Linked DNA regions of Homo sapiens: region 1 is linked to region 2. Evidence: fine-mapped expression QTL. Tissue or cell type: whole blood. Region 2 holds a variant in brackets; the other region holds the start of a gene. All regions are shown on one strand. Distances are from middle to middle.

The links.
Region 1: DGAT1 starts here. The variant in region 2 is fine-mapped to the expression of DGAT1 in whole blood (TOPMed, PIP above 0.99).

What each region holds. Positions count from the first base shown.
Region 1 is chr8:144,323,618-144,335,140 of GRCh38, reverse strand. It overlaps DGAT1 (diacylglycerol O-acyltransferase 1), which reads left to right and starts at 8,289. Exons shown (of 17, transcript NM_012079.6): 1 at 8,289-8,704. The coding sequence starts at 8,505. It overlaps SCRT1 (scratch family transcriptional repressor 1), which reads left to right. Exons shown (of 2, transcript NM_031309.6): 2 at 1,025-4,576. The coding sequence ends at 1,956. RefSeq lists enhancers at 1-244, 1,148-1,855, 1,856-2,564, 2,779-2,828, 11,154-11,213 and 1 more and silencers at 2,989-3,278, 7,863-8,582, 8,593-8,662.
Region 2 is chr8:144,270,832-144,282,354 of GRCh38, reverse strand. It overlaps BOP1 (BOP1 ribosomal biogenesis factor), which reads left to right. Exons shown (of 16, transcript NM_015201.5): 3 at 6,051-6,131. Among named protein-coding and RNA genes, the nearest start is that of SCX, 10 kb to the right of the region's middle. RefSeq lists silencers at 4,498-4,547, 7,481-7,610, 11,249-11,418 and enhancers at 6,846-7,488, 10,067-10,710, 10,711-11,354. The variant C/T (reference allele first, on the strand shown) is at 4,333.

The DNA.
Region 1 (11,523 bases), 53 kb before region 2:
AGTGTGCAGCCCACCCTGTGAGGGCACACAAGGGCTGATCATGCTGGGAGACTGGGTGTAGCCCTGAAGGAGGCAGAGCGTCGCGAGGGGCGTGCATTTGTGACTTTGAGGTTATGAGATCCATCTTGTGCCTGGGGAGCAACTGCAGCTACCGGTATAAGTGATGCTGCCCTCCTGCAGCTCGTCCCTGTGAAAGTGGACGCCCTGGCCCTCTCTGCACAGTTCAGGGGCTTGGGAAGGCCCTGAAAGGGGTTAGGGTGTGAGCAGGAGAGGGCAATGTTGAACAGGGTAGGACCCAAGGGTGCAGGATGGTGAGAGGGAGTTCGGAGGAGAAGCAGAGTGCATGGAGGAGCAGGGAGGGCAGGGTCAAGTCCAGTGGGTGGCCGGAGAGCTGAGGGAGGTGCTGGTGAGGCCGGAGGGAACTGGGGGAGGGAGACGTCTTCAGGGCTTGTTGGAGGAACCAGAAGGCCAGAGGGGGTCAACATCAAAATGGAGCGCACGTTCTGCAGGCCAGAGGGAGAGCCGGCCAGGACCCCGGAGAGGTGGGACAGACGGGGTCCCTGGGCCGGCAGTCCTGGCTTTGTGCGCCGCGGGTCTGCAGTGTGTTGCATAATCAGGGAAAACTGCTGAAGTGGGGAGAACCCGAGGGGGAGGGGAGGGTGGGTGGGGGAGGAGGGAGAGGGAAGCGCCGCCCCTCCCCCCTGACCTTGAGGCTCCGCGGAAGGGGGGCAGCCGCGCCCGAAGACGCGCCTCTCTCCTCCTCTCTGCGAGGGTGGGGCGGCGGGGGCGGAGCGTGGCCCGGCCCTGTCTCATCCTCTCCTCCCCTCTCTTCCCCTCCCTGCTGTCTCCATCCTCCCTGCCCGGCGGTCCCTCGGCCTCCTCTCCTTTGTCCTCCTCCCTGTTCGCCTCTCTCCCGGACCCGGGTCTCCCGGTCCGCGTCTGCTGTCTCCCGCCCCCCCATCCCCCGTGTGTGTCCTGCCGCCGCCCCATTCCCTTCCCGCTGTCCGTCCGCCTCCGCCCGCAGGGTACCTCAGCGACTACGTGGGGCCCTCGTCCGTCTACGATGGCGACGCCGAGGCTGCGCTGCTCAAAGGGCCGTCGCCGGAGCCCATGTACGCAGCAGCTGTGCGTGGAGAGCTGGGTCCGGCGGCTGCAGGGTCTGCGCCGCCGCCCACCCCGCGCCCGGAGCTGGCCACCGCTGCGGGCGGCTACATCAACGGCGACGCGGCCGTCAGCGAGGGCTACGCGGCGGACGCCTTCTTCATCACCGACGGGCGCTCGCGGCGTAAGGCTTCCAATGCCGGCGCTGCCGCCGCTCCCTCCACAGCCTCGGCGGCGGCCCCCGACGGCGACGCCGGAGGCGGGGGCGGGGCGGGCGGGCGCAGCTTGGGATCCGGGCCGGGGGGCCGGGGCGGCACGCGCGCGGGGGCAGGCACCGAGGCGCGCGCGGGGCCAGGGGCCGCAGGTGCTGGCGGCCGGCACGCGTGCGGCGAGTGCGGCAAAACATACGCCACGTCGTCGAACCTGAGCCGCCACAAGCAGACGCACCGCAGCCTGGACAGCCAGCTGGCGCGGCGCTGCCCGACGTGCGGCAAGGTGTACGTGTCCATGCCGGCCATGGCCATGCACCTGCTCACGCACGACCTGCGCCACAAGTGCGGCGTGTGCGGCAAAGCCTTCTCGCGGCCCTGGCTGCTGCAGGGCCACATGCGCTCGCACACCGGCGAGAAACCCTTCGGCTGCGCGCACTGCGGCAAGGCCTTCGCCGACCGCTCCAACCTGCGCGCGCACATGCAGACGCATTCGGCCTTCAAGCACTTCCAGTGCAAGCGCTGCAAGAAGAGCTTCGCGCTCAAGTCCTATCTCAACAAGCACTACGAGTCGGCCTGCTTCAAGGGCGGCGCCGGAGGCCCCGCGGCTCCTGCGCCGCCACAGCTCAGCCCTGTGCAGGCCTAGGGCGGCGGGGCCTCCCCCAGCCAGGTCGGCTCTCAGCAATACGGCCCCCCAGGGAAGTCTTCGCTGGCGTCCGGGTGGAGGGGCCGGAGGGCGGGCCCCTCCTCACAGCAATAGGGGGAGGGGGGCCCGGTCCCACCCCGCCCCGCCCGCCAGGGGCCTTGCCGGCCCCTTCAAGCAATAGGGTCCCGAGGGGAGACCCACCCCGAGCCCCCTCCCCTCCCCTCCAGGGTGCCCCCGGCTTTCTCCCAGCAATAGGGTCGACGAGACCTAGAACCGAACCTCATCTCCGAGTTGGGTCTCTGAAGACGGGGGTGAGGTGAGGTAGGGAGCGCCCTCCTTCTCCCGCCTCTGCGCCCCTGGATCGCGTCGCAGGGACTCAGGTCTTCCCCACCCCTTCCCAAGCCTTCTAGCGCAGGGCCTGCGGCCCAGACGTCCAGGGAGCCGGCCCCTCCCCGGCAGCAGGCCGGGGCGGAGCAGGAGCGGGCGGGCCTGCAGGGACGCCCCTGCCTAGCAGCCTTCGCGGAACTCCCGGCAGTGTTAGACGCGTTGTGGGTCGGGGAGAGGGGCGGACGGCGGCACCCCCTCCCTCGGGTTGCTTCTGGGGCCTCAGTCGGAGCCGCCCTCCTACCCTCGCCTCGCATCCTCTGCCAAATCCGAATTCTTCCAGCCCAGCTTCCCGGGCTCTGTCCTCCATATCGAATAATAATGACACATATCGAATCGCATGGACTTATCCGACCTCCTCAGACCCCGCTTCCGCCCTGCCCCGGGCCCCCACCCCCCACCCCCGTACCCCAGGCATTCGTGTTGGAGGACGGATTCCCGGGGCCGGCAGGCAGGCCTGGGCGCTGCCCTCTACACACCTCTGTCTTCGCTTTGCGGGTAAAGCCCCCTGGGGGGGTTGCGGACGCGTCGGGTTTCTTTTTCTGTATTTGTACGTTTTATTTATGAACGGATTGCACTCGGGTCAGGGAGGGGGCGCTGAACCCCCATCTTGCCCGCCGACGCCGGGGGCCTGGGATGTCCGGGATTACTTTCCACGCCCCGAGGCCCGCCCCTAGCTGGGAGCCTCTAGGGAGCCTCAGGCCCCGCCTCTCCGAGGCAGGCCCCTCCCCTGAGACCCAGGCCCCGCCCCTGAGACCCAGGCCCCGCCCCCACTCGGTTGCCAACTTTCGCCCGTCTATGCCAAAGCCTCGGCGGCGACCCCGCCCCAAGGGCCCGCCCCATTGGCCGCCGCCTTTGTGACGTCACTGCATGCAGCCCCACCCCTCCTCCCGATCCTACCCGGGGCTGCCCGCTCCCCCTCCCTCTTAGGTAGTCCGAAGCCGACTATAGAGCAATAATGCGCACTGCATGCGAAGCTGCCGCCGCCTCTAGAGTTACTGAGAATCAGGTATCCCCTCGCCCTACCCACCCCATAGGCCCCTAGATCAGGGACGCTGCGCGGGGCCGGCCGCGCAGACTTTCTCCCCACCCCTCCCCGACCCCCACGGCAGAGCCCGGCGGCTGTAATGGTTCCATGGGCGGGGGTGGGGTGGTTGCCCCCAAGACCCCTCCTTCAGGCATTAATCATTCACTGACCGTTCATTGAGCACCTACTATGTGCCAGGCCAATTGCTGAGTCCGCCAGGAGCGCAGCCACCTGCTGGGAGGTGTGTTTGCAGGACAGGGGTCCAACCGGCTTGGGTGGGCCAGGGAAGAACGGCAGATGCAGAGAGACCAGGTCCCTAGGTTCACATGCCCCCTACACTCCTCCCCACCTCAACCAGTCCCTGCTGGGCACAACTGGGCTCTACCTTTGAGTTAGGCCTTTTGACTCCAGCTGAGGGGGACAGATCCAGGGCTCCTGGGCCCCCACACAGGTGGCCACTTCTCTGATCCTCTGGCCAACACACATCTGCCATGTCCAGCCAGGGGCAGAGCCATGGCTGGAGAAGAAGGTGCCAGCTGTAGCCTATGGTGTGGCCAGCCTCACCCCCAGCAGCAAGCGTGGCTGCCCCCACAAGGATGACCCACCGCTCTGCACAGCAGTGCCCACATCCAAACACCCTACACAACCAGGTGTGGTGCCTGCACAGCTCCCAAGCTGGGGCCTGCCCACCTGTGCCGCATGCACACGCACACACAGGCGCCCCCACCTCACCCCACCCCATACTCCTGTCTACCTACCTAAGGAGAAAGCTGGAGGGCTGTGGGCCCGTCAGGGTCTCCTGCTTCCCCCTACACCCCGCCGCCGTGGAAAGCCATGGGCCCCCTCCCGCCCCCATAACTAAGCAGCACAATAACCGACTTAGCGAATTCAGGTAGAAGGAACGTTTAGGTAGCACCTATTTTGTACTGATTCTACAAGTAGGGCCCGAGGTGCGGGGGCCCTCGGGTGGGGGCTGCGGCCGCCGGCCCGCCCGCCCCCACCCCCGCCTGTGCCCCGCCGCCTTGTACATATTCCCACCCGGAATAGGCCGGGATTTTTACTCGGGCCGTGCCCCTCTTCCGCCCCCATTTGGGGCCAGGCCGGCCGGACAGACGGACGGACGGACAGACCTCCTTCCTAAGCACAATAGCACCAGCTCCCCGGAGCACCGCACCTCCACAAGGAGAATAAATGCCACTCTTGATAGAATTTGGAGTGTCGGGCTGATGTGTCCTGGGCTGGGCCCACGCTGTTGGGTGGCTGGGAGGGTCTTCCCAGTCTGGCAGTACCTCAGAGGCTGGTGCTGCAAGGGTCAGCCTGAGGCCTTTCACAAGACGGCCCTCTTCTTCCACTGGGGAGGGCAGGCTTGGCAGGCCCAACCACAGGAGCATCAGGTCTGAAGGCAAAGTAGTTGGCATTTCCCCTGGGGTAGGTGGATCTGCTCCACACCAGGAACAGGAGCACTAAGGGGTTCCAGTCTAAAGTCAGGCCAAGCCCACGGTTGGACCAGAGTGGGCAGGGTAGGTATAGTAGGAGCTGCTGTTCCCCAGCCTGGGTGCCTTCGCTCTTCTCTCCCTGAAGGAGCTTTATGCTGTGATGGAAGGCCTGATAGCCACCTCAAGCCCTCTGAGATGCTGTTGCAGGAAATGGGGACAGTGGAGAGTTCGAGGTCTGGCCCTTTTCCTGTGGCCTGCTGCCCACATTCTGACCCCCAGGCTTCCCAGATATGCTCCCCCAGTGTCTGCGGATGCCTCCATGGATAGCTGGGTTGGACCGGTTCCAGGGAGGAGGTGCCCAGGGGGCAGAGAGGCTTCTGCAACCATCGCCCAAGGGCTCTAGACAGAATGAGTAGTGGAGGAGATAAGGGACAGGGACCCTTTGCCCAGCAATGTCCCCTGGTAACCAGGTAGGCAGGCATGAGCCGAGAGGCCCAAAGTCTTCGGGCACATACATTCAAACCAGGTCAGTCCTAGATCCAGGGCCAGCAAAGCTGCCCACACCCTAGCAGGGACAGGGGACAGACCTGCCCAGACTCCACTAGGGTGGAGAGCAGGGGAACCAGGTCTGCAGCATGTCATGGCCTGTGTGCCTGGCACTTGGAGGAGCTGTGGTGCAGGTGGGTGCTCTCTTTGGGAGAGCACTACCAGCAATGACAATGGCAGACAGCAATGGCCAGGAGGAAGGCTCCTAGCCTCACTCCTTCCAAAGGACTCCAACAGCGACTGGCTGTTTCTACTTCTCCAGGATTCTGATGCGTAGAGTGGGTGGAAGGATGGAGGTGGCCTCCCTGAGGCCTGGGATGAGCTCGACCCCCCAGTTCCTCCCAGCCACAGACACAAGTTTCCCTCTGAATGAGCAGCACAGGCCATAGACCACCACTGGCTGTGAACTCTCCTGGGACCCTTGCTTCTCACAGGCCTTCTTGGCCCACCCATGGCCCCTAGGCCCTGGGATCAGCCTGAGGCCCCAACCCACTTCCAGCCCTTTATTCCACTAGCCCTGGAAGGCAACTCGCTTCGGGCTTGGGCCCCCTCATTTGTTGCTGCCCCCAGCAGGGTGATCTGCATCATGCTTTCCTCGATGACCCAGCCATACACACCCTTGTCCCCAACCAACCTCACCTACCCTGACCATTCCCCTCACCCTAGATCCCAGGGTATAGGGCCTGTCTGGGCAGGGCTTCACCCACCTCTGGAGCTGCTGCCCCGCCACGCCCCCACCCCCGGTGGCAAAGCCCTTCCTTAATGGCCCGCCCACAGCCAGTGCTTTCCCCATTGGCTCCAAGCCTGGCTCTGCTCACCAGGCCCGACCCATCCTCCCTGGTGGTCCAGTCCACCCTCCCATTGTCTTTCTCCTGTGGCCACTTGCCGGCTTTGAGTTGGGACGCGACCACAGGTTGAGTCGTTGATCTCCTCTGCCTAGCATGAGGTGCTCCGTGGCCAGGTCCAGACCTCTCTGAGCTTGCTGTCAGTCCATACTCAGACAGGTCTGGGCCTACCTGGCCACAGAGTGTGTCTGCCAGCGACTGCATTCAACAAATGAATATTCTGAGAGACTGGGTAGGAGATGGGGCTGGTCCTGACCGACCAAGGCCCATGTGTGAGGGGCTCTTGGGTCCAGTGAGGGCGGCCCCACTCGGCAGGCTACACAAAGGGCATCTGCCAGGTAGCTCCAGCCTGCCTGATACCTGGTTGGCAGCAACCCACAGCGGCCTGTGGTGACAAGAATATGTCACCAGGGGGGCAACCAAGGGGGCAGCCCTGCTGGCCACTGTTGGTGGAGGTGGTGGAAGAGGACGGAGCTCAGAGGCGAGGCTGTGACCAGCCCACGGGAGAGGACCCCACCTCAGGAGGAGCACCTGTTTGCTTCCAGAGAAGTGCTGCTTGCCCCTGCTCACCCCAGAGGAATGAAGGTGTTTCTAGAGTCAGAGTCCTCAGTGAACCCTGGCATCCTGAGATCCAGGATGTTCTCACTCCATGCCCTGTGCAATATGCACACCAAGCCAAGGTGGGCCGCAACTGTGGCTGTTACAGTTGATTAGTTGCTTCATTTAACATACAAGATGTCTGGGGCAGTGGCTCATACCTGTAATCCCAGCACCTTCAGAGGCCGAGGTGGGAGGATTGCGTGAGGCCAGGAGTTCGAGACCAGCCTGGGCAGAATAGCGAGACCCCCATCTTTAGAAAAAATAACAACAGGCCAGGCGCGGTGGCTTGCGCCTATAATCCCAGCACTTTGGGAGGCCGAGGTGGGCGGATCACGAGGTCAGGAGATCGAGACCAGCCTGGCCAATATGGTGAAAGCCCGTCTCTACTAAAAACAGAAAAATTAGCTGGGCGTGGTGGCACGCGCCTGTAGTCCTGGCTACTCGGGAGGCTGAGGCAGGAGAATCGCTTGAACCCAGGAGGTGGAGGTTGCAGTGAGACGAGATCGCGCTACTGCACTCCAGCCTGGCGACAGAGTGAGACTGTCTCAAAAAAAGAAAAAAGAAAACAAAAAACAACAGGGCGGTTGCACAGGCCGTGCAAATGCACAGAAGCCTCTTGAGTCCCGGCGATCCAGCGGCCCAGACTTCTGACATCCTGGAGAGGCTGGCCCACGTTGGAAACTGGGAGGCCCTGAGAGTTGAGGGACGTGGAGCTCCTTGTGGAGAGAGTGGGTGGGCTGAGAAGACACCACCAAGGGGCCTGCGCCCTCGCCCTCGCCCTCGCCCTCCTCTCGCCGGGCTCTGCAGGCGGGGAGGTGGAGAGCCTGGGAGTCGCGTGCAAGGCAGGCGTCCCGGTGACGCAGGGCCTGGTGCATTTCTCCAGCTTGGTCTTCTGACCTGGCCCTTGTCTGACGTCCCCCTAAGGCGAAGAAAAGCAGGTTCCTGCCGGGGTAACCAGAGGGCTCGCGGAGCAGAAGCGCGCCAGGGACGTTACTGTAAGCTGCGTGCGCAGAAACCAACGCGCTGGGTGGCGGGCGACGCGAGCCGCCGCGGACACCGGCCCGGACAGCTGGACCGTGGCGCACTAGGCGCTTCCTAAATGATTGCCCGGAGTGACTCGCCGAGACCCCGTGTGTACACAAGTGGGACGAGGGGCGGGCGCACAGCGGCCAGGAAGTCGGGGCCCAGCGCACCCCTCAGCGGACCATCCCGCTCCGTGGGGCCGGACAGGACCCCGGGACCACGCGGGAGCGATGCAAGGTCCGTTCCCGCTGCGCGCACTTGCGGCCCGCAGCCCCGGCCCTGGGAGCTGCCACGGCTCCCAGGGTGCTCTGCGCCGGTGCGGCCGCGGCGACTACGACTCCCAGGGTGCTCTGCGCCGGCGCGCCCGCGGCGACTACGACTCCCAGGGTGCCCTGCGCCCCGTCAGCCTCTCCAGGCCCCGCCTCAGGTCGGCCGCGGACTACAAATGGACGAGAGAGGCGGCCGTCCATTAGTTAGCGGCTCCGGAGCAACGCAGCCGTTGTCCTTGAGGCCGACGGGCCCGACGCGGGCGGGTTGAACGCGCTGGTGAGGCGGTCACCCGGGCTACGGCGGCCGGCAGGGGGCAGTGGCGGCCGTTGTCTAGGGCCCGGAGGTGGGGCCGCGCGCCTCGGGCGCTACGAACCCGGCGGGCCCACGCTTGGCTGCGGCCGGGTGCGGGCTGAGGCCATGGGCGACCGCGGCAGCTCCCGGCGCCGGAGGACAGGGTCGCGGCCCTCGAGCCACGGCGGCGGCGGGCCTGCGGCGGCGGAAGAGGAGGTGCGGGACGCCGCTGCGGGCCCCGACGTGGGAGCCGCGGGGGACGCGCCAGCCCCGGCCCCCAACAAGGACGGAGACGCCGGCGTGGGCAGCGGCCACTGGGAGCTGAGGTAGCGGAGCGCCTGACCCCCTAACCTCTGACCCAAGGGCCCCGCGACTTTCCGGGGTTGGCCGAAGCGCGAGCTCCGAGTCCGAGAACATGGGCCCTGGGCTAAGCGGGGATCGGTGTGCCCTATGGGCCCTGTGGGGAAACTGAGGCTTGGGGAGAGTCACCTGACAAGGTCACTGGGTAGGGGCTCTGGAGCTGGCCTTGGCCAGGCAGAGGGGAGCCGGCAGGTGTCCCGCATCCAGATCCTCTTGGGTCTGTGCATCCTCAGGGGCTCCTGAGGAGCTTTTCGAGGGGCGGGCTGGTGGGGGCCCGGCCCTGGACAGTGTCCCCTTATATGGAAGGAGTCAGATAAGATCTGGGCAGTTTGTGGTGATAGGTTCCTTCTTGGTGCTATGAGCGGTGCCTTGCGGGTAGGAAAGGCTCCCAGAGGAGGGCTGGCCTGCCAGGGAGGGGGCCAGAGGAGCCCAGGCCTGTCCGAGGACAGGGGAATCAGCAGCTGCCCCGGACAAGGGGCAGTGTTAGAGGCGTTCTTGTCCTTGCAGACCCTTCTGAGAGTGGCTGCGTGGCCCATTCATTGCTCCAGTGGTTAGGCTGGCCTGGAGCCCTGCCGATGTTGCCAGAGCCAGCGTCTGTTGTAGGGACAGAGAGTTGGGTTCTGTGTTGGGACTTCCATCCTCCAGGTGGGGAGTGGGGTATGGGGGTGGTGGACACACCTGCAGGCGTGTGCCCTGCTCAGCTGGATGACTGACAGAGAGGGGTGGAGGGAGAGAACCATGGCCGATGGGAAGGACTTGGCCAGCCTGGGCATTGGCTTCCTCCACCAAGCTGGCCTTGAGCAATCCCCTTGCCACCCTCCATCCCCCCTTTATGGCCTTTACCCTGGCCCAGGGGCCCTCAGGGCTTTGTTTTAGAGAGCAGCTGAGGGCCTAGAGGTTATCAAGGCAGAAGTGGGCTGATTTTGGACATGTAGTTGGCAATGATTTGCTCTCTCAGTGAGCAAGAACAGAGCTTTCCTTCACGGGGCACCATGGGGAGGGGGTTGGGGGAGGGCAGGCACTGTCGTGGCCCTCAGGGTGCTCAGTTCATCTGGGAGATAAGATAACCTCAGCGAGAGTCAGGCATGGAGCAACATGGACAAAGGTCGGGCACGGAGGCCTTGAAGGGGCCGTGGGGAGGAGGGTGGCCCTCCTGAGAGGGGTGCTTGCCTGCTGTGGGCCTGGGGTGCTGGTGAGGGAGGCTGGCCTAGGCACCTCCTACCTGAAAAGGAGGTGTGGCTCCTGGAGTTACCCTCTCTCCAGGAGGCAGGGGGATGGCTACATGACCTGTGGAGGACGTGGGAATTGAGATTTCTTTTTTTTTCTTTTCTTTTTTTTTGAGACTAGTTTTGCTCTTGTTGCCCAGGCTGGAGTAAAATGGCACATTCTTGGCTCACTGCAACCTCTGCCTCCCAGGTTCAAGTGATTCTCCTGCCTCAGCCTCCAGAGTAGCTGGGATTAGAGGCGCCCACCACACCCGGCTAATTTTGTATTTTTAGTAGAGATGGGGTTTCTCCATGTTGGTCAGGCTGGTCTCGAACTCCTGAACTCAGGTGATCCACCTGCCTTGGCCTCCCAAAGTGCTGGGATTACAGGTGTGAGCCACCGCGCCCGGCCGGGAATTGAGATTTTTTTTAGTGTGAGATGAGGGTAGTCCCAGCTTTGGGCCAAGCCGCCACCTGGGGGTAGGCAGGGGAGAGCAGTCACCTTCTTGCTTTGCAAACCAGCAAGGCTTTCCTGTACTTCTGCTGGTGTGGGATGGGTGCAGAGCTCGTGGGAGAGGCCTGGTGAGTCCCTGTCCCTGCCGTGGAGGTCGGGTCTCCTTGGGAAGAGGGGCAGTAGATGGAGAGGTGAGGCCTTCATGGGGCTGGAGGCTGAGACCAAAAGTCTATCTGCTCCTGGGTCTCCAGGACTTGCAGGCTATGTGTGCTTGTCCCTCAGACCTAGGGATGCAGCAGGGCTCGGCCACTGGCTGTGGACACTGGGCTCTTCTCCCTGCTGTCTGCGTCAGGCCTTGCTCTGCCTGCCCTCCTGGGACTTGGCCTCTAGCGCACCCCCTTGTCAGCCTCACAGCCTCCCCTCCCTCCAGCTTCCTGCTGCTCTTGGCCCAGCCCAGCCTTTCCTCTCCCGCTTCCTCATTACTCCTTGAGCTCGGGCCTCCTCCCCTCACGGACACTTCCTGCTCACCTAGGGCTGGGCTCTGGGTGTGAGCTCCTTTCTTCCGGCCCCGTGGCAAGGTGAGGCTGTGAGGCAGGCAGGAGAGGGCACCCCTTTCTGCTCTGCTTGTGGCTCACTCCTGCCAGGCTCTTTGCACACACCCACCAGCCCTCTGCTCACAGGCACCCCAGTCGGGGCCATCCGGTTTCTGGCTTCTCCCAGGGTGTTTTGTCCCTGAGGTGTCCTTTCTGACTCTCCCTTTCTCTCTCCAGCAGGGTCTGCGAGGTGCAGGGAGCCTGCCCCAACCATCTTGAACCCAGGCCCAGCCCAGAGGCCAGAGTGGAGGAGGCGGCAGTGAGCAGAGCTGGACTCTGCCCCCTCCTCATTGTGCTTGGCCCTGGAGCTGCACTGTGTGGGCCCCAAGTGTGGGACTCACTGGGACCTGTGCCTTTGGGCACACTTTGAACCTGGAGACAGGGTGGCGGGTGGGCATGTGCCAAGGTCTCAGTGTTGCCGTGAGACTGAGAGGATCCTGCTGGCTGGGTGGGCCTGGGGGCTGCAGGAGGGAGGGCAGGCTGCTCCGAGTCTTCTTGGACTAGGGAGTGGGTGTAGGGACAGCTGGAAGGTG
Region 2 (11,523 bases):
GGCCTGGTTCCTACTCCCTGGGACTTTCTGCAGCCCCTGCCCTTCCAGCTGTTGACTGTGTCTGCGAGCCATCCCACTGGAGGGGCGCCCTGGGCTGTGTGCTCCCTGCCCTGCAGCACCCCTGACACGGGTGCTCCCAGCCCTCCACTGACCAGCCAGGGAGGAAGCTGCCTCCTGCCGGCCTGTGCCTCGCTTCCTGTCCCCTCTCCAGCAGCACACGGCAGCGCGGGCCGCGGGCTCACCGGAGCGAGGACTGGTTGCAGGGCCTTCTCTTTATCGCTGGTGTCTAGTGGATCTGTGGGGTCCGTGCGCTCAGAGCTGTTTTTTCCTTTCTGTGCTCATTTAGATTCATTTTTTTCCCAGCTTTGCTTGGTTTTGTCTTTTCATTTATGTGAGTTTTTCTTTTTATTATTTTGTGCAGAAGTTTCTGTTTTTATCAGTTAATCTGCTTGTCACAGTCAAGAATGTGAGAAAAGACTGGATGCGGTGAGCCAAACCTGTAATCCCAGCACTTTGGGAGGCCAAGGTGGGCGGATCACTTGAGGAGTTCGAGACCAGCCCGGCCAACATGGTGAAACCTCATGTGAATTGCTTGAGCCTGGGAGGCGGAAGTTAGAGTAAGCTGAGATCATGCCACTGCCTCCATCCTGGGTGACAGAGTGAGTGGGACTCTGTCTTGAAAGAAAAAAGCACTAGTAAGAGAAGGCCTAAGACCTAGTATTAAAGTAAGAGAAGGCCTAAGACCTGGTATTAAAGTGAGAGAAGGCCAAAGACCTGGTATGAAAGTGAGGGAAGGCCGAAGACCTGGTATTAAACTGAGGGAAGGCCGAAGACCTGGTATTAAACTGAGGGAAGGCCAAAGACCTGGTATGAAAGTGAGAGAAGGCCGAAGACCTGGTATTAAACTGAGAGAAGGCCAAAGACCTGGTATGAAAGTGAGAGAAGGCCGAAGACCTGGTATTAAACTGAGGGAAGGCCGAAGACCTGGTATTAAACTGAGGGAAGGCCGAAGACCTGGTATTAAACTGAGAGAAGGCCAAAGACCTGGTATGAAAGTGAGGGAAGGCCGAAGACCTGGTATTAAACTGAGGGAAGGCCGAAGACCTGGTATTAAACTGAGGGAAGGCCGAAGACCTGGTATTAAACTGAGAGAAGGCCAAAGACCTGGTATGAAAGTGAGGGAAGGCCGAAGACCTGGTATTAAACTGAGAGAAGGCCTAAGACCTGGTATTAAACTGAGAGAAGGCCGAAGACCTGGTATTAAAGTGAGAGAAGGCCGAAGACCTGGTATGAAAGTGAGAGAAGGCCTAAGACCTGGTATTAAAGTGAGAGAAGGCCGAAGACCTGGTATGAAAGTGAGAGAAGGCCGAAGACCTGGTATTAAAGTGAGAGAAGGCCAAAGACCTGGTATTAAACTGAGAGAAGGCCTAAGACCTGGTATGAAAGTGAGAGAAGGCCGAAGACCTGGTATTAAAGTGATGATTCCAGATTTTTTTTTTTTTCTGAGACAAGAGTCTGTCTGTCACCCGGGCTGGAGTGCAATAGCCTGATCTCAGCTCACTGCAGTCTCCACCCCCCAGATTCAAGCAGTTCTTTCTCCTGCCTCAGCCTCCCGCTGTGATTACAGGTGAGCGCCACCAAGCCCAGCTAATTTTTTGTATTTTTAGTAGAGACAGGGTTTTCCATGTAGGCCAGTCTGGTCTCGAACTCTTAACCTCAACTGATCCGCCTGCCTCGGTCTCCCAAAGTGCTGGGATGACAGGTGTGAGCCACTGGGCCCGGCCTTCCCAGATAATTTAAGGAGAGTTTGGCCTGTGCCGGAGCATAATGCACACTCTTGGGCAGGGGATCCCGCCAGCGTCTCAGCGAAGGCTCTGGGAATGGCAGGTGGCAGGCCGCGTTGCTGCAGCGTGGGAACCCTGGGCTCGGGCCCCCTGTCGCTGTGGTTCTGGGGTCTGGGTGCTGGTGCCGTCTGCTGGAGAGTGGTCTGGAGCTGCAGCTCTGTGGAGTCTGGAAAGGGGCTGCCCAGTGATTCTCACCAGCTGGTCAGTGGTGGAGAAGTTGCCTGGGTGTGGACCACAGAGCTGGGGATGGAACCAGGGGCCAGGGCTGGTGGTAAACTCCGCTCTTGCCTCTGCCTGTGGCCTTGCTTTGGGTTCTTTTGAAGACTGCCAGCTCCAAGCTTCTTGGCCCCCATGGGGGAGTCAGGCAGCTGTTCTGCCACCTGCCCTGACACTTTGCAGCATCAAACAGATATTTTGTAGCATTCTGGATTCGAGGGGTCAGAGTTCAGGCCGAAAGCAGCAGGGTCAGTACACCCTGAGTACAGTGTCATGCTGAGGGGCCGGGGAGCCCCAGAGGGTTCTGGTACATTCCACCTGAGGAAGATCGACACTCAGCTCACATCCTGTGCTCTGGGACTTGGGTGAGGATCTCAGGTGAGCACAGCCGGGCCTCTTGTGTGTCCAGACCGCCCCTGACAGCCATGTTCACGAAGGGTACCCCTGTCCAGCTGTCCCCTCTCCCAGGGCTCAGGGCTGCAAGGACGTGGTCTCCTGTGCCAGGCAGAGCCACACGGCCTTCACGACCTCAGCCCAGAATCCTGTGGTGTCAGTGTGGGCTGCCTCCCTTGGGTGGGTAAAGCAGCCACAAGCCCACCCAGATTTGCGGCGGGGGGGACATAGACTCTGTCTCTTGATGCGATGAAAATCAAAGGTTTGTGGCCGTGTTTTAAAATGGTCACAGTCACCCTTACGCTTGCCAAATAGTCTCTTCCCCCAGCGCTCCCCAGAACCTCATTCCACTGCCAGGGTCTCATCTAAACCAGGCCTGATAGATGGGGGTCCTTGGGCCCCTCTCTGCACAGCTGTCTGCAGTGGGGCACCGAGTCACAGTGCTGTGGAGTGGTCTCTGGTCTGTGGTGGTCCTAAGGTGGCTGAGCACATGGCTGGTGGTGGTCTTGGCCATGGTGGTCTTGGCCCGTGGTGGTCTTGGGGCCTGTGGTGGTCGTGGCCCATGGTGGTTGTGGCCTGTGATCGTCAGGGCCCATGGTGGTATAGGGGACCTGTGGCAGTTGTGGCCTGTGGTGATCGTGGGGCCCATGGTGGTCTTAGGGCCTGTGGCGGTCGTGGCACGCAGTGGTCTTGGGGCCTGTCCTTGAGACCCATGATGGTCTTGAGACCCGTGGTGGTCGTGGCCTGTGGTGGTCTTGAGGCCCATGGGGGTCATGGCCCATGGCGGTCGTGGCCCGTGACGGTCATGGCCCTTGGTGGTCATGGCCCGTGGTGGTCTTGGGGCCTCTGGTGGCAGCACACATGGCCAGTGCCTCATGCAGGGTTGGCCTCCATGCCTGGGAACGACCCTGCCACTCTTGGGCTCCTGCCCCGAGTTACCTTCCTTTTCCCTGAGTAAAAAGGGATGTTTTTCGGCTGTATTTTCTCTGGGCTTTTCAGTTCCTGCTGATGTACTTTCTTTAAAACAAAATGTGGGTTTCCTAGGTACCTGTTGATGAGTCGTTGCTGTCACACGAGCCATCGGCACAGAGCTCTTGGATAGCAGCCTGTCTCTGTGCTGGGCACCCTGCGGCTAGCGTGGGCAGGGCCCTAGGGAGCCTTGGCCGTGCTGAGGTGCTGGGTGTGGGGTCTGTGGTGCAGCGCTGGGTTGTCTTGGTGTCCTTGGCACCCCGACAGCGATGTTCTGGCTCTGGTCTCTGGGCAAGTTAGGACTGCTTCCCTCCTGCTGTCCACGTCTCCAGCAGAACCCTCTTGTGGGCAGCCCTGGGAGCAGAGTTCTCTTCCCACCGAACCGGGACACCGCAGCTCTGTCGCCATCCTCTCCCAGGAGGTGAGGGCAGAGCCCGTGTCTCATGCCTGGTTGGTGGCAGTGGGGCACGGCCTGGCTGGCCTGATGCTGGGGAGGGGAGGCTCTGGTGTGGTCACAATAGGGGGCTCATGCGCTTGGACACCGTTTCTGTCTGGCTGAGCCCACTGTGGGTTTCTCCCTTTGGTCCTCATGGTGACATTCTAGCCCTGGGGCTGGGCAGAGGCCACGCAGGGTTCAGGGACTACAGCAGCCTTTCCTTGGCCCCAGCGGCCCCGCATCCTGCTGGCACCTCGTCCTTGCGCTCCCCCTCGGCGGCTCCCTGCCCACCCGTCGGTCCTTCAGACCCGCCTGCCTCTGCCCAGTGGCGCTCGCCCGCCCACTCTCTCAGCTTTTACTTCACCCTCACGCAACTCTCGTGCTCCATCGGGCCCGACCCCTCCTCAGTCAGGCCACGCACACTGCGGGTGGTGCTGGAGACCCTGGAGAATCCGGGCTGACTCCAGGCATGGG[C/T]GTGGCGGGAGGGGGTCCTGTCCCCAGGAGTCCGGAGCGTGGCGTGGGCTCATGTTCCGTTGTCTGTGTCGTTAGGGTTTTGGTGGCCTTTTCCTCTAATTTTTAAGTTAAAAAAAATACGTTCAATGCCCCACAGCATCTGCCTCCAAAATCTGAAGGGGCCTTCTAGGTCAGGCAGTTCCCAGCAGTGGCCGCCCCTGCCCGCACCGCCCCTGCCCGCACCGCCCCTGCCCTTCGGGCGCTGGGCCTGGCTGAGCGCCGTCGCCCCCTGGTGGACTCTGTGCCCCACAGCTGTCCCACGGGGATGCTGCGCCCCTGGGAACCCAGCACCTTCGAAGGCCACCTCTGCCCCCTGCCCAGAGCCTGCCTGTGCCGTGGCCTGTCCACATCCAGCACAGGGGCCACGGGGCACAGAGCGCTGGGTGACAAGTCTTTTGTCACCTGCCAGGACCCTGGGACTGCGGCCCATGAGCAGCGAGGCTGGGACTCCAGCGTGCGGTGCTTCAGCCCCGGCCACTGTGAGGGGTCGGGAGCCCAGCCCGGTACCCGTCCGCAGAGGCCAGGCGGGGGCAGCCGACCGCAGCCGGGTGTGGAACTGCCCTTGTGCGCGTCTGGGGCTTGGGGCCGGGGTCACGGATCTGCTGCGGCTGTGGGGGCTCATGTGCTCCAGGCAGGGGCAAGAGCTCCGTGTCACTGAGCGCCCCAGGCCACTGTCAGCAGCAGGGGGAGACGTGGAAACTGAATCCTTCCTTGTTCCTGGCCTGGGAAAAAACTTAGTCTCCCATCTCTCTTTATATTGAAGGAAAAAACAGGCAGGGGAGGAGCCCGGGCCGGAGAGAAGAGGGGCTCGGGGTGGGGGCGGGGGCGTGCCCGCCTTCGCTCTGGGGTTCCTGCGCCCGAGCACTTTACTGCCCCCACGGGTGAGAGGTGGGCCTGTTTTCCCCATCAGCCTTGGTTCCGCCAGTAAACCCGATCCGGTTGGAGCCATCCTCACCTCCGCAGTCGAGGGCAGAATCTGTTTTCCAGGTTGGGATGTGAATTCTCAGTGGCGCCCACTCTGTGACCCGGCGGGATGGGGTCAGCCTGGGCTGTGGACGTGGTGGGTGGGAGAACGCTGGGCAGGCCTTCTGAGTGTTCGGGGCCCTCTCTGGGCCCTCTGCTGGCTGGACTGGGCGGGACGTGGCCCCCGGGATGGGTGGACAATGTGTGTCCCCCGCCCCTTCAAGAGCATTGGCCCCAGTGACCCTGCTGCGACGGCTGCGTCTCCTTCTTCCCCCCGACCATGCTGCCCCCGTCCCAGGCGGGGCTCGGCAGGAGCGCCATGTGGGGCCCCTGGGAGGAGTCCTGTGGCTTTGACATGAATGGGGGTACGGGTGGTTGGCGGTGGGTCTTGGTCCTCAGCTGGCGGCTTTGCTCCTGACTGCCCCAGTGGCTTCCGTGTCTAGCCTGACACCCGTGTCAGCCCAGGGACAGAGGCCCCGGGAGGCTGCAGTCCAGCCCTCACAGAGGACAGGGCCGTGGGCAGGACCTGCGGCGCCGGGTGCCAGCCACAGCCCCCAGAGGCCCCCTTAGAGCTGGGTGTTCTCGGCCTTGTGCTGAGGCCTGTGCCAGGCTGGAGCTGCTCAGAGATTTCGGGGTGGTGGGCTTCCTGGGATCCCCCCAAGGTCAAAGGGTACCCTGTATCCCCTGAAGTGACCATTTTCTCTCTCTCTCTGCAGGCCAGCACTCCTTGCCCGAGGACAGAGATGGCGAGCGCCCGGATTGGGGATGAGTATGCGGAGGACAGCTCTGATGAGGAGGTAGGACTGGGGCTGCTTCCCACTGGGCAGGGTGGGGCGGCTTCCATCACAGCCTAGCAGGTGCTGGGGGTTGGGGCTGGGGTTGCCCTGGGGGTGCTGGGACCTGCCGCAGGTGGGCCGCACTGTTGGAGCCGAGGCCCACGTGGGCGTCCTGCTTCCCCATCTGCAAGAGCAATTTCGGGGTCTGGGACACAAGACTGCAATGTATGTGTGTCATCATGGCTTGTGAAGGGGAAGGACCTGGGTGTGGCTCCATGCCCCTGTGTCTGGCCTGTGGACGGGCTCTGGGGGCTCCTGTGGCGTCTGCAGGGTGGCTGTGGGCTCCCTGGGCGTGGCGTGCATGGTCTGGGTGGGGGTCATGGTCGGGGTGGGGGTCACGGGCATGGGTGGTGCCCCTGTCGTGTGTGCTGTGGGGTGGGCCACAGGTTGGCTGGGGGCCAGGCGGGCAGAACAGGGCCAGGGCCACCTCCTAATGTCCTGATGTTCTGGGCAGTGGTGGCCCTTCCCTTCCCCTGGGGTCCCCCTGCCCCCCACCCCTGGTGGTGGCTGATGTGGGCTGGGGCCGTTGCCTCTGGACCTCTGACTGAGTCCCAGGAGCACATCTCAGGAGGGGCAGGAGGTCGGCTGTTTCTCATAAGGAGCTTGCAGGCGAAGGGGGATGCGTGCTGCTGGGCTGGGCTCCACCAGCGTGGAGAGGCTGGCACCGGGCTGGGCTCCGCCAGCGTGGAGAGGCTGGCACCGGGCTGGGCTCCGCCAGCGTGGAGAGGCTGGCACCGGGCTGGGTTCCGCCGGCGTGGAGAGGCTGGCACTGGGCTGTGTCCAAGAGCAGATTTGGCTGCGGGGGGCTGCCCTCATTTGGGAGGGGCTGGAAGCTCTGAGAAGCTCTGAAGCCAGAGGCAGTGCCTGCCTATACCCTCCTCAGTGTGGCCTGGCCCCAGGGTAGGACTGTGGTCCCAGTGGAGCACCTGGGTGTGAGGCAGAGTCTCCTTTGGGCCCTGGGGGCTGTGGGGGAAGGAGAAGGCTTTGGTGTAGGGCCTTCCTGAAGGAGCTCTTCCTGCCTGCCTGTCAGGAACTGTCCCCGGGGGGCCTGGGGGAGACACGCGCCCCCCTCCCCCCAGGTTCTTCCCCCATCCTTCGGCTCTCTTGGCTGTGGCTGCAGGAGCCTTGGCCGCCCGCCCGATCCGGTCTCTGCTGCGCGTTCAGAGAACAGAGACAAAACAAAATAAATTGGTTTCCTGGCCGGAGCAGCGGGCTCACTCAGAGCGGGGGGGCCACGCCGCGCACTCCCTGCCTGTCTCCCCTCCCCCTCCCAGGGGCTCTGGCTGTCGGCAGCCACATCCTGTCGGCTACTTTTTTATATTTGGTATTTTGAGAAATCGATGATGATTGTAAACGGAGCGCGGAGGCCGGGGGAGGGGCCTCGGCGGGGCCTGTGGGACCCTGCTGCCCCTGGGGGTGCTTTGCCAGGCCTGTCCAGTGCCACCGCCGCCTGCCGGGTGGGCAGCCCCCTGCTGTGCTGGGAGGAAGCCGGCCAGGGATGTGGGGGCTGCTTCCTCCAGTGATGACTATCCCATATGTTGGTCTGAGTGACAGCGAGGGAGCCCGGGTGCTGCCCGGTGCTCCTGCCAGCACAGCCGGCCAGTGGCTCGAGGGGGCGGCAGAGCTCAGCTTTCAGGAGCCAGGCCAGGCCCGGACAGATGCCTCCCGTCCAGAGAAGTGCGCATCTGCCTGGGCCTCTGTTCCCTTGGAGCAAAGTGGGGTGGCCCTAGGGGAGTGATTTGGGGCCACAGGTGGGCAGGAAAGAGGCTTGGGAGGTGGGAGACAGCCTGCAGCTCTCCCATGAGACAGTGGGGTGAGGAGAGCAGGGCCCGTCAGGCAGCCCCGTGTCCTTGGAGGTGGCCGTGGCACCAGGACCATGGTCCTCCTCGGCACTGGGCAGAGCTGGCTGAGAGAGGGCCGACCTCACTGCCGGGGCCCTTCAGGGCTGTGGAGAGGGCCCCTGGTAGCAGGGCAGGGAGGGCGCCGCTGGGGCGTGTGCTCCTGCGAGCGGCGATCTCAGCTGGAGCGCGTGGGTGGCAGTGGCTGTGATGCTGAGAAGGTCTCGGGCCAAGCTCCTGCTGGTGGGAGGTGCCTCCCTGCCACCCCCTGCCCACCTACCTCCCCTTCTCCTCAGGCCACTTCCCTGCCCTTCCTGGGTCTGGATCCAGGGCCTGGACCTGGATGACACTGGGGCTTCAGGGACCCCCTGCTGGACGCTGACTTTTGAAGACCTGAGCAGCCCCTCACAGGAGAGCTGTACTCCAGCTCTTGGTGTCTTATTCCCCTCCCCCAGGTGCGCAGGCAGCAGCGAGCAGGCGGAGGGAGGCGGGCGGAGCCCCTGGAGGAGGCGCTGGGCCTGGCTGGGGTCCTGCCGCCGGCAGTGGGGGGCCCCCAGGAGCCGGCTGAGCTGCGGCTGCCCCGCCCCCGCATGGCCACCTCACCCCTCTCCCACCGCGCCTGGAGCTTCACAGACGTGATCTCATCCAGCCGCTGGGACCCCCGGGGAGGTGGGCCGGGGTGGAGGGGCGGGGCAAGGGGGCTCTCGGCCTTTGCCGAAGCAGCCCCTCCGCTTTGATTTGAGCGGTTGGGAGAAACTGAGGCCGGGTGGCTGCTCAGGCAGAGGATGCAGCCACCCACCCTCCCCCTGCCTGTGGCCGTGTTTGTCAGGAAAGCGTAGCAGGCTGAGGGATCTGGGTGGCCGTCCACTCTGGCCGGAGGAGCCGCCCTCTGCTGTCCCTTTCCTGTGCCCCGTGGTGCTGGCCTGGGGCCGTCCCCCACGAGGCCTCCACTGGAGTCTGGAGTCTGGGGCTGGGGTGCAGCCTGGCAGCTCCTCGGTGCCCCTGACCCTGCCTGGGCTGTGAGTCAGGTTCCCGCAGGGATGCAGCCGGGCCTGTCTGCGTCCAGAGCCCGTGGTCCCCTCTGCTCTCGCGCCAAGCGCCGTTAATGGCTTCTCCCAGCTACTGAACCGGCAGCTGCCTCCAGTGCTGGCGGCCTCCGCTCCTCCGGGCCGCCCCCGCCCCCGCGTCCTGGCCCCGCGCACTCAGGCTTGCGTCGCTGCTGGCGGCGCGGCCTCGGCTCAGGTTTCCCGGCGAGCGAACGGCCCTCCCCACGCTGCTTGTGGAGGGCGCCCGGGCCTGCAGACCGCCCCAATCTCCCTGGCGGCCATCCACCCCCGCGGCCGCCTGCATGCCTGCCTCCGAGGGGGCTGCTGACTGGGCTGGGGCTGGCCCTCGGGTCTGGTCCCTTTCCACTGAGGAGGGAAACGGGCGCGCCCTGCTACCCAGGCTGTGGGTGGGTGTGTGTAGCCTGACTGCCGCGTGCCCCTTGGCCGGCTTGAAGGCCCTCCTAGGCCTGGCCTGCTGCACTCAGTTGTCCGGTTTGGGAGAGGAGAGACCCTGGGGTCAGTGATGAGGGGCAGGGAAGCCAGGGCCCTCATGGGGGTACCCTGGGCTCTCGGATGAAGCAGGGCTGGGCAGTGGCTGGTAGGTGGGAGTGGCCTCTTCAGAGCCGCGTCCTCCTGCTTGTGGGCTGCAAGGGTGGTGGGGGCCCTGGCCTGCTGTGCCCACTCGGGGCCAGTGTCCTTGGCAGCTGGAACCCGGGTGGGCAGCGGGGGGTGCTCTACAGGGCTCTTGAGCGGAGGCTTTGCCCTGGGGCTGGCAGAGCAGCCTGTGGAGTGGAGCCGGGGAAGGCATTGGAGGGCAAGGTCTGTTGGGCAGGTGGTGACGGCTGCAGGCTCTGGGCCCTCTGGGGAGGCCGGCTGGGGAGAGCTGGGTCTGGGTGTACGTCCCAAGGCCGGGGCTGTTCTGCAGGGGACGGGAGTCCCAGGTACGTGTGTGTGCACGGATCAGGACTGGGGGAAAAGTCTCCAGAATGAGATTTTGGAGGTGTCCGGAGTTGGGGGCTGAGCGGGTGTGGACCTCTAGAGCCCTGTCCCCACCCCACCTGGAAGTTGTAGCTCTGAGTTGTGGGGCTCAGAGCAGGCCGAGGAGGGGTGAGCACTGGTGGGTGTCGGTGGGGGGTGTTTGGGGTGTCATGCCCCAAGCCTGTGCCCCACCCCTAGCATCCTGGTTTCTGGGAGCCCCTGCTTATGAGATGCCAGGCGTTGGGGTGCTCTGCCTGGGAACAGCTATTGTCCCTGGGTCAGCCCCAGCAGAGACCGAGGCAGGCCAGGTCTGGAGGAACCCCTGGGTCGGTAGTGGCTTCTCTCCAGCCTGCAGACCCCCAGGAGGTGACTTGCTGCCCTCCCAGCTGTGGAGGTGCAAGGACCCCTGGGTCAGTAGTGGCTTCTCTCCAGTGGTGGAGGTGCCGGGAGAAGGCCGAGCTGTGTGCCCAGCCTCTAGAAGGGCAGATGCGTGGTTGGCGGGAGCCGGGCCGGAGCTGAGGGCGTCTGGGCTGGTGGCTCCTCCTGCCTGGGGCCCCACCTTGGGCTGGGGGTTCGCTCAGCTGGTTTGGACTTTGAGGAGGAGGAGACTAAGCAGGACCTGGCTTTCTCCCCTCTGGCCCCGGCGCCAGGGCCCAGCACCCCTGCTGGAACCTTCAGTAGGGTGAGATGCAGCAGGTGAGCCTCCCGCCCTGGCCTTGCCCTGAGCACTTCAACAGATAAAACCCTGAGGAAGAGGAGGCGGCCTCACGTCGCACAGGAAGGCCGTGTGGCGCTCCGAGACAGGCGGGCGTTTTGTGCAGGGGAGCGGCGCGAACGCTGAACACTACCCGCATTGTAATCGGAGAGGGGCTGGGGAAGAGAGAGACGGAGCGAGGGCGGCTGACCCCACGCTCCCGGGGGACAGGTGGGAGAGGCGGAACGAGGAGAGAGTGAAGGATTCCAGAGGTGGGCCGGCTTCCTCTCTCGCAGACAGACACGGGAGGAGGCGGGCAGCGGGCCAGCCCCATACCTGCAGTTCCAATCTGTGGTCCTGACAGCTGCAGCCACTTTGGGGAGGGGGAGGGAAGGGGGCTCATCGAGAGCGGAAAAATCCCAGCCGACACATCAGCCGGTTGCGGCCTGTGTCCGGTGCAGTCTGGGCTGGGGGCCTGTCCTTGGGGCTGGGCGGCCCCCAGGAGAGCCCTGATGCTGGGTCTGTGTGTGCCCCCGGCCGGCCGGCCGGGGCTCTCCGTGCGGGGCCTGACCCGGAGGGGTCACATGTGTTTCCTGGCAGCCCGCAGGTGCTGCGCTGGGCGGGGCGGGTGGTGGGCGCAGGCGACCGTGATGAATCATGTGTCCCGCCAGCAGCTCGTTCCCCAGGCCGGGGACAGGAGCTGACAGCTGAGGCCCAGCAGAGCGTTTCCAGCCCAGCTCGGCTCGCAGGGGCGGCTGCTGGCCCAGGGTGCAGGCTGGGGCCCCTTCCGTCCCAGC